Homo sapiens: one gene and its partner. The protein of the gene in region 1 interacts with the protein of each later gene in a biochemical or structural test. Each region holds a gene or a part of one and is shown on either strand. Other genes may lie near its edges. The genes, in order: NR2C2AP and NR2C2.

Evidence for each region.
Region 2: the proteins of NR2C2AP (region 1) and NR2C2 form a complex in vitro, tested with the Homo sapiens proteins (one study listed by BioGRID).

Annotation. Positions count from the first base shown.
Region 1 is NC_000019.10:19,200,909-19,204,998, reverse strand, and holds NR2C2AP (nuclear receptor 2C2-associated protein), read left to right. Parts: upstream 1-1,584; 5' UTR 1,585-1,938; coding exon 1,939-1,976; intron 1,977-2,117; coding exon 2,118-2,208; intron 2,209-2,423; coding exon 2,424-2,529; intron 2,530-2,600; coding exon 2,601-2,668; intron 2,669-2,957; coding exon 2,958-3,074; 3' UTR 3,075-3,279; coding exon of another isoform or gene 3,280-3,350; 3' UTR 3,351-3,435; coding exon of another isoform or gene 3,436-3,525; 3' UTR 3,526-3,590; downstream 3,591-4,090. Other genes in the region: DNA-binding protein RFXANK, read right to left, coding at 3,280-3,350. UniProt on the Homo sapiens protein: May act as a repressor of NR2C2-mediated transactivation by suppressing the binding between NR2C2/TR4 and the TR4-response element in target genes.
Region 2 is NC_000003.12:15,041,391-15,045,202, forward strand, and holds part of NR2C2 (nuclear receptor subfamily 2 group C member 2), read left to right. Parts: exon of another isoform or gene 1-1,443; coding exon 1,444-1,618; 3' UTR 1,619-3,812. UniProt on the Homo sapiens protein: Orphan nuclear receptor that can act as a repressor or activator of transcription.

The DNA of each region.
Region 1 (4,090 bases):
GAGCTTGCAGGAGGTGTCTAGTGAATCAGTGAACCAAATCTTCAGCTTGGTATCTGAGGCTTTGTTTGGCAAACTCCTGTTCATGCTTCAAAACCCACCTCACAGCCTGGGTGCGGTGGCTCACACCTGTAATCCCAGCACTTTGGGAGGCCAAGGCGGGCAGATCACGAGGTTAGGAGTTCGAGACCAGCCTGGCCAAGATAGCGAAACCCCATCTCTACTAAAAATACAAAAATTAGCCAGGCATAGTGGTGCGCACCTGTAGTCACAGCTACTCAGGAGGCTGAGGCAGGGGAATCACTTGAACCTGGGAGGCGGAGGTTGCAGTGAGCTGAGATCACACCACTGCACTCCAGCCTGGGCAACAAAGTGAGGCTCCGTCTCGAAACAAAACAAAACAGAAACAACAAAAAACACCCGACCTCGCATGCTCCCTCCTCCAAGAAGCCTTCCTTGACGTCCCAGCAGCATTTTCTGGGAAAGACAAACTTGGAGGCCAGGGCTCCTCTGTCCCAACAAGAACAAAAAGGGTTGATGAGGACTTCAGATACTCCCAACATCGTGGCCTTTTCCACAACTCTGCCTTTGGCCTCCGGGAGGCAGTGAAGTTCGGGGATTCCCAGGCTGCATTTAGTGGTTAGGGTAGAGTAGGTTAGAGTAGGTTAGGGTAGCCGTTAGGGTAGAGTAGGTTAGAGTAGGAAGAAAGACATTGTCATAGGAAGTCTCTCTGGCCGGGCGCGGTGGCTTACGCCTGTAATCCCAGCACTTTGGGAGGCTGAGGTGGGCGGATCACTTGAGCCCAGGAGTTCGAGACCAATCTGGGCAACATGGCGAAACCTCATCTCTACCAAAAAACAAACAAACAAACAAACAAACAAAATAGCCTGCCGTGGTGGCGCGCGCCTACTAGTTCCAACTATTCGGGAAGCTGGGTAGGAGGATTGCTGGAGCCTGGGAGGCAGAGGTCGCAGAGAGCCGCGATCCCACCATTGTACTCCAGCCTGGGTGACAGTGAGACCCCACTTCAAAAAAAAAAAAAAAAAAAGGCCGGGCGCGGTGGCTCAAGCCTGTAATCCCAGCACTTTGGAAGCCCCGGCGGCTGGATCACGAGGTCAGGAGATCAAGACCATTCTGGCTAACACGGTGAAACCCCGTCTCTACTAAATATACGAAAAATTAGCCGGGCGTGGTGGCGGGCGCCTGTATTCCCAGCTACTTGGGAGGCTGAGGCAGGAGAACGGCGTGAACCCAGGGGGCGGAGCTTGCAGTGAGCGGAGATCGTGCCACTGCACTCCAGCCTGGGCGACAGTGAGACTCCGCCTCAAAAAAAAAAAAAAAAAAAGGAAGTCTTTCGGATTCCAAAATCAGTCAAAATCAGTGCTCTACACCTTCGGGCGCCGAGGGACAGCGCCCCGTGCGCGCAGCCAGCCTTTTCCCTACAGCTTCAAGGGAACCAAGGTAAATTCAATCATCGAACCCGGGCCCTTTAAGAAGCGAGCATGAAGGGGCGGGGTCGAACCAAACCCCACCTCTGGAGCGTCCGCGGTCGGCGCCTGAATTACAACACGCATGCGCCAAGCCCACGCGGTTCCGGGTCCCAAGATTTGGCTCCAAGAGCTATTCGCAGAGAAACAGCCTCGCACAAAAAGCCACCGCCCCCGAAACCCGCGGGAAATCTGTTTCCTGTGAAAGGCCTGGCCTCCGGGCATTGGCGGTTTCCCTGATCCTCTCTCCCAAATTTTCCGGCAGGGGATTGATCGAGGCGACATTTAGGACTGGGGTGGGCGAGGGAGTGGCGGTTCTCGTCCCAAGTTACAGGTGAGGACGTTCAGGCCAAGGCGTAGCCAAGATCGCGCCGCCCTGTAGCTTGAGGAGGCGCCGGGATTCGAACCAAGGCTGTGCCCAATCCTAAGCCCTGCGAGGTCTTGTGGAACCGACATGACCCACTCTTTGGTTTGTCCAGAGACAGTGAGCAGGTAAGAGTCTGTGGGGACAGGCAGTGGCGAGGCCCTAAGCCTGGGGTCGAGCCCTCAGTGGACAGATCTGGGGGTCAGGCCCTCCGCGGAGCTGAGAGCTGGTCTCAGCCCCTCTCTTCGCCTTGATCCTGGTGCCTCCAGGGTGAGTTCAGTGCTGAATCGCAACACTCGGCAGTTTGGAAAAAAACATCTTTTCGACCAGGATGAGGAGACATGTTGGAACTCAGACCAGGTGAGGCGCCTCCCTCGACCCTCCATCTCTAGGGTGATTCAGATTCAGATCTCATGCCTTGAGAACGTCAGGGGGCCCTCATGGGTGGCCAGGAAAGGAACATGTGCCGAATTTCCTTCTTCCCCTCCATTCCAAGAACTATGTGAATGAGACAGGCATAGCAGGGCTCTGTGCCTGCAGTGAGCTTGCGCCTCAGTTTCCCTGTCTGCTTCCAGGGCCCCTCCCAGTGGGTGACGCTGGAGTTTCCCCAGCTCATCCGTGTCTCCCAGCTGCAGATCCAGTTTCAGGGTGGCTTCTCCAGTCGCCGGGGCTGCCTGGAAGGTACTAGAAGGCCCTGGGTGGCAGGGGTTCCAGGGGTCACCCCAGACACTCATTGCCTTTCTCTGCTGAAGGTTCACAGGGCACTCAGGCTCTCCACAAGATTGTAGATTTCTACCCTGAGGACAACAACTCGCTTCAGATATCCTGCCCCTGCTTCTGGGGTGGGTGGTCTGTGCCTCTGGAAGCTTTGGACTCACCCAAACCCGAATGGGAACCCTGATGTGTGATCTTGAACACGTGACCTCTAGGACTCCACTTTTTCTGTAAAATGGTGCTGATGACCACCTGTTCTGTGTGAGAGGCTTAGAGGGACCTGCAGCTTCCCCAGGTTGCCCACATCGGTGGAGTGTGAGCTGGGTCTGGAAGGGGTGGGGGCCTGCGGGTGGGAAACCAGAAATCACCAGTTTCCCTTGACTGCCCACGCTCACACTTTCCCCATACCAGCTGCTGAAGTGGACCGGCTGAAGGTGACGTTTGAGGATGCCACTGACTTTTTTGGCCGTGTGGTCATCTACCACCTGCGGGTGCTTGGGGAGAAGGTGTGAGACCTCTAGGGGCTGTCTCCTCCAGGAAGCCCTCCGGGAAGCACAGCAAAGTCCCTCATTCTGCACAGAAGGTTTATTGGTTCCTCTTGGGAAGGGTCCCCTCCCACCACCTGTCCAGAAGCTGCCTTTGAAGTCAGTTCTGGGTTTCCCCAGCTCTGGCTGACCATTTTGTTCCCTGAGTGTCTGAGTCCCCGGCAGGCGGCCTTCACTCAGGGTCAGCGGGCACCAGGTTGCTCTGGAAGAGCTTGAGGATGTGGTTCTCGATCACCTGTTGCACTGAGATGGGGCAGGGAAAAGGTGGGCTGTGAGCTTGAATCGGGAGTGGGGTGGAGGCACAGGCCAACCTGCGCTCTCCCCTTAGGGGACAAACAGGGACCCTTGCAGAGACCTGCATTACAGAGCAAAGCTGGGAGAACCGAGGACTCACCCCAGGAACCTCAACTTCCCCTAAGTTTGTAAAAATGCACTTTTGTAGCTTTTCAGAATTAATATAAAAATATTTCCTACCAAGCAAAATGTGTGAATTGTGACTTTCATGAAAAGATGAGCCTGGGCATGGTGGCTCACACCTATAATCCCAGCACTTTGGGAGGTCCAGTGGGGAGGACTGCTTGAGCTCAGGAATTTGAGGCCAGCTTGGGCAACAGAGCAAAACGCTGTCTCTACCAAAAAAATTTAAAAATTAGGCTGGGCTTGGTGGCTCACACCTGTAATCCTAGCACTTTGGGAGGCCAAGGTAGGTGGATCACTTGAAGTCAGGAAAGGCCAGCCTGACCAACATGATGAAACCCCATCTCTACTAAAACTACAAAAATTAGCCAGGTGCAGCCGGGTGTGGTGGCTCATGCCTGTAATCCCAGCACTTTGGGAAGCTGAGGCGGGTGGATCACCTGAGGTCGGGAGTTTGAGATCACCTGACCAACATGGAGAAACCCTGACTCTACTAAAAATGCAAAAAATTAGTTGGGCATGGTGGTGCATGCCTGTAATCCCAGCTACTTGGGAGGCTGAGGCAG
Region 2 (3,812 bases), on another chromosome or scaffold:
CAAGATTGGAGCACAGCGACTCATTGTGGCTGAGTGAATGGATGCTGGTGCTGGAATGCTACCTGCATAGTATGAATACATTTTCCCATTTTAAAAATAAGCAGTATTCACTCTAGAAAAATTTAGAATGTTCTAGAAAGGAAAAAGGAAAAAGAAAACTTTTTAAAAAGCACTATCCAGGGGCAGGGCGTGGTGACTCACACCTGTAATTCCAACACTTTGGGACACTGAGGCAGCAGGATTGTTTGAGCCCAGGAGTTTGAAACCACCCTGGGCAACATAGTGAGACCCCATCTCTATGACAAAAAAATGAAAAATTAGTCAGGTGCGGTGGTGTGCACCTGTAGTCCCAGTTACTCAGAAGTCTGAGGTGGGAGACTCACTTGAGCCTGGGAGGTTGCGGTTGCAGTGAGCTGTGATCACATCACTCCACTGCAGCCTGGATGACAGAGCAAGACACTATCTCAAAAAAACAAAAACAAAAAAGCACTGTCCAGATACCTACTATTAACATTTTGCGTATTCACTTCCAGAAATTTTTTATGTATTGTAATTGGGATCATAAAATACCAAAGGTTTTGTAACCTTTTTTCATGTAATATACAATAACAATACGTACTCTTCTTCATTTTCTATGGTTCCTATTTCCCTGCTAATGAAAAGGTAGGGTGTTTCCGGTTTGGGCTGTCACACATGGCACTGCAGTAGAGTCCTGGCACATGCTCCACTTGCTCACCTGAGATCCAGTCCTGGCTGGGGAATGGCCTGGTCACGTGGGACACTTGAGATACACAGTGTTCAGTGGCCCTCCAGGGCAGCATTGTGGTGCACCCTCCACCCCAAGTTTCTTCAAAATGAAAGCTATTTTACTGCTTTATTTATAATGCTAAATGAACACTGGAAATTAGAGCAGTACAAAAAATAAGAAAAAATCACCTCAAATCCCAATACCCAGAGCCCAACTGTTAGCGTGGTGAACATTTTCCCAATACTTTATATACACATCTATACTTGCTGTTTTATAATCTCCTTTTAAACTTTTATTGAGCAATATGTCATGGATGTCTTTCCTGGTCAGTAAATACAGGTTTGTATTATCGTTTTTTAAATGAGTCTCTAGCAGTTCATCATATGAAGACTCCTACTTTAGTCTGTCCTCTGTTGATGAATTTCCAGGTTTTCTCTTGGTGGTGGGGGTGAGGAGAGTTGGAATAAACAAGAGTGAAGGGAACACATCTGTACATACATTTTGTACTCATTTGGTTTTTTCTCATGATAAATTTCTATAAGAGGAACTGTTGAAATCAGAAAAGAGAGGTGGGTGGATGGTGGATCCGTTTGGTTTGATTCTGTGCAATACAGACGGGACCCCAGGAGCCTTTGCTGAGCTGTGGTTGAAGGGCATCAAACAGTCTCCTTTTCTAATGACACTCCCTTTTATAGATTGGCCCGGATCCTCGTTCGCCTGCCGGCACTCAGGCTGATGAGCTCCAACATAACAGAAGAACTTTTTTTTACTGGTCTCATTGGCAATGTTTCGATAGACAGCATAATCCCCTACATCCTCAAGATGGAGACAGCAGAGTATAATGGCCAGATCACCGGAGCCAGTCTATAGCGCAAACCACACACCTGCCAAGGAGCAACAGAATCCTTCCAGGACCGTTCACATACAAAGAAAAGTAGTGGTATTTTGGTATGTGCAAATATTTCCATATGTTAGCCATTTCCTGTCTGGTTTCTCCTTATCTGTTAATCCCAGACAATAGCAATTAAAAGACTAGTAGGATCCTTTCCTGACATAAGAAATGTTTTAATGCCTTTTGATGAAGCAGCAGATTTTGGAACAATCTTTTAACTCAATTTGTATTTAGAAATTCTCAAAGGGCAAAAAACAAAAAAAAAGGTTTTATAATGTCAGAGACTAGTATTAAAGAAAACTGAAAGAACCTGAGAGAATAGTATGTGTGTATATATATATATAAAAAAGTCCTTGGAATTATAGATACTAATTACCAGGGTAATAATATTAGCACTTTCTAAGCACTTATCAATGTGTAACGTTAGCAACATCTTGCCTGTGGGCAGGGCAAATGGAAAACTGTGTATGTCTTTTGCCGAAATGCTAATGATTTCTGTGAAAACTCACTAGGGTACAGGAGACAATCATTTATGTTTAAGAAAAGAAGGCATCATTCCTAATTGTGTGCACATGTTGTGGAGTTGAGCTGAATTCTGTGAATGGAAACGTGGCTCATTTGCATCATGCAGTAAGTGGGAGTGTGGTAGCACAGTCGGTGGTGACCCAGTTCAGAAGCTTCTAGCCATAGAGCAGACACTTGTCAGGTTCCCTGACTACTTGGTCCTGGTCTCTGATGGGCATCTGCAGACTCCTCTAGAACCTGGGGTTCTCCTTTGATGACTGGTTATCTGAATTGGATTGCAACTAGTCAGACATTAACTGCCAAATGAGATGTACAGTTCCTCCAGCAAGTGAAAACATCCCCAAGTCACATCCGCCGCTCGTGGCAGATGGAGCCTTGTGACCAAAAAGTGCAAGGTGGGCATTTTGAGCTCTTGACAGTACTTCCAATACAATTGGGGGTGCTTGTGTGTTTGTCCAGATGGAGGAGTGTGGCCTTGGAGTGTGAGCGTTACCTTCCCAGGGCTTTCCACTCCAAATGCCCCCTTGAAAAGGGCTCGTGTTTCTGCAGCTCCATCATAACTGTGAGGCTGGATTGGGGCTGGGCAGGAGCCTGCTGCCGCCTGGCGAGAGTGGTTAGGGCCTGGTAAAGCTGGATGGAAGGTTTCAGGACAATTTCTTCCTGTTGACCTTAAATACCAGAGATTTTAAAAATGTGTATAGACTCAGCATCTCTGTTGGCAAGTCTGTTAATGTTACCAGCACACTGTGCACTTTGGTTCCCCCAGGTGTGTGCCAGCCGACCACCCCGGAGCATTTTAAATGCAGGCTGCTTGCTCCTTAAAAACAACCCTCAATTTCCAGGGTGATAGTCTTTCTCCTCATAAATTGTAGCAACCAGAGTTTACAGCAAGAACAGTATGCGCTTAAAAGGAAGTTATGTCTAACTTCAAACACCCGTAAATTCCCACGGATGTGAATATATAGCAAGCTTTTCCTGTTTGAGAACAGTGGCATGTGGAAGACCCGGTCAATTGCTTTGTCTTTTGCTTTTTAAATAGTCCAGATTAAGAAAATACACCCTGTTGGGTTAAATTTGCCTCTCTTGATTTGTTAATCAGATGATATCCAAAAAGATCCCTGGACACTCCCCTGACTCACAGGTGCTCTGATCTGGCTCAGGCTGGCGCCACATGTGCTCCACAGGGGTGCAGTCTGGCCAGCTACAGACGCCCCTGTGGTGCCACATTGGACAGAATGGAAGCTGCTGCAGGCTCAAGGCAGAACAGGATGCTTGATCCTGAAGGGTTAGCAGCACTTTACGCAAGTCAGTGTTAGTAGGGTAAGTGGGAACAGTGTTTCCAACTTCTAAATTCTTGTTTGGATTTAATTATATCATTTTATAATTCTTGCCTTGGCAGCAAATTTTGGAGAGTAGTGGGAGTGGCCATTATAAAATGATGGAAAGGATTTAATTTTGCCAGCTTAAAGTAATTTTTACTTTTCTAACCCTGATGTGTTTTCAGTTTCAAAATTAAGACAAAAAACCAGCTGAGACAATGGAATTAGGGCAGGTTTGTTTCATTTCTGCTTGTGAAGGCTTTTAGTAGCAGGCATCCTGCAGCTCAGTGGTGCCTCTAACACAGATTGTTGCCTGCCTTCCGTCGTT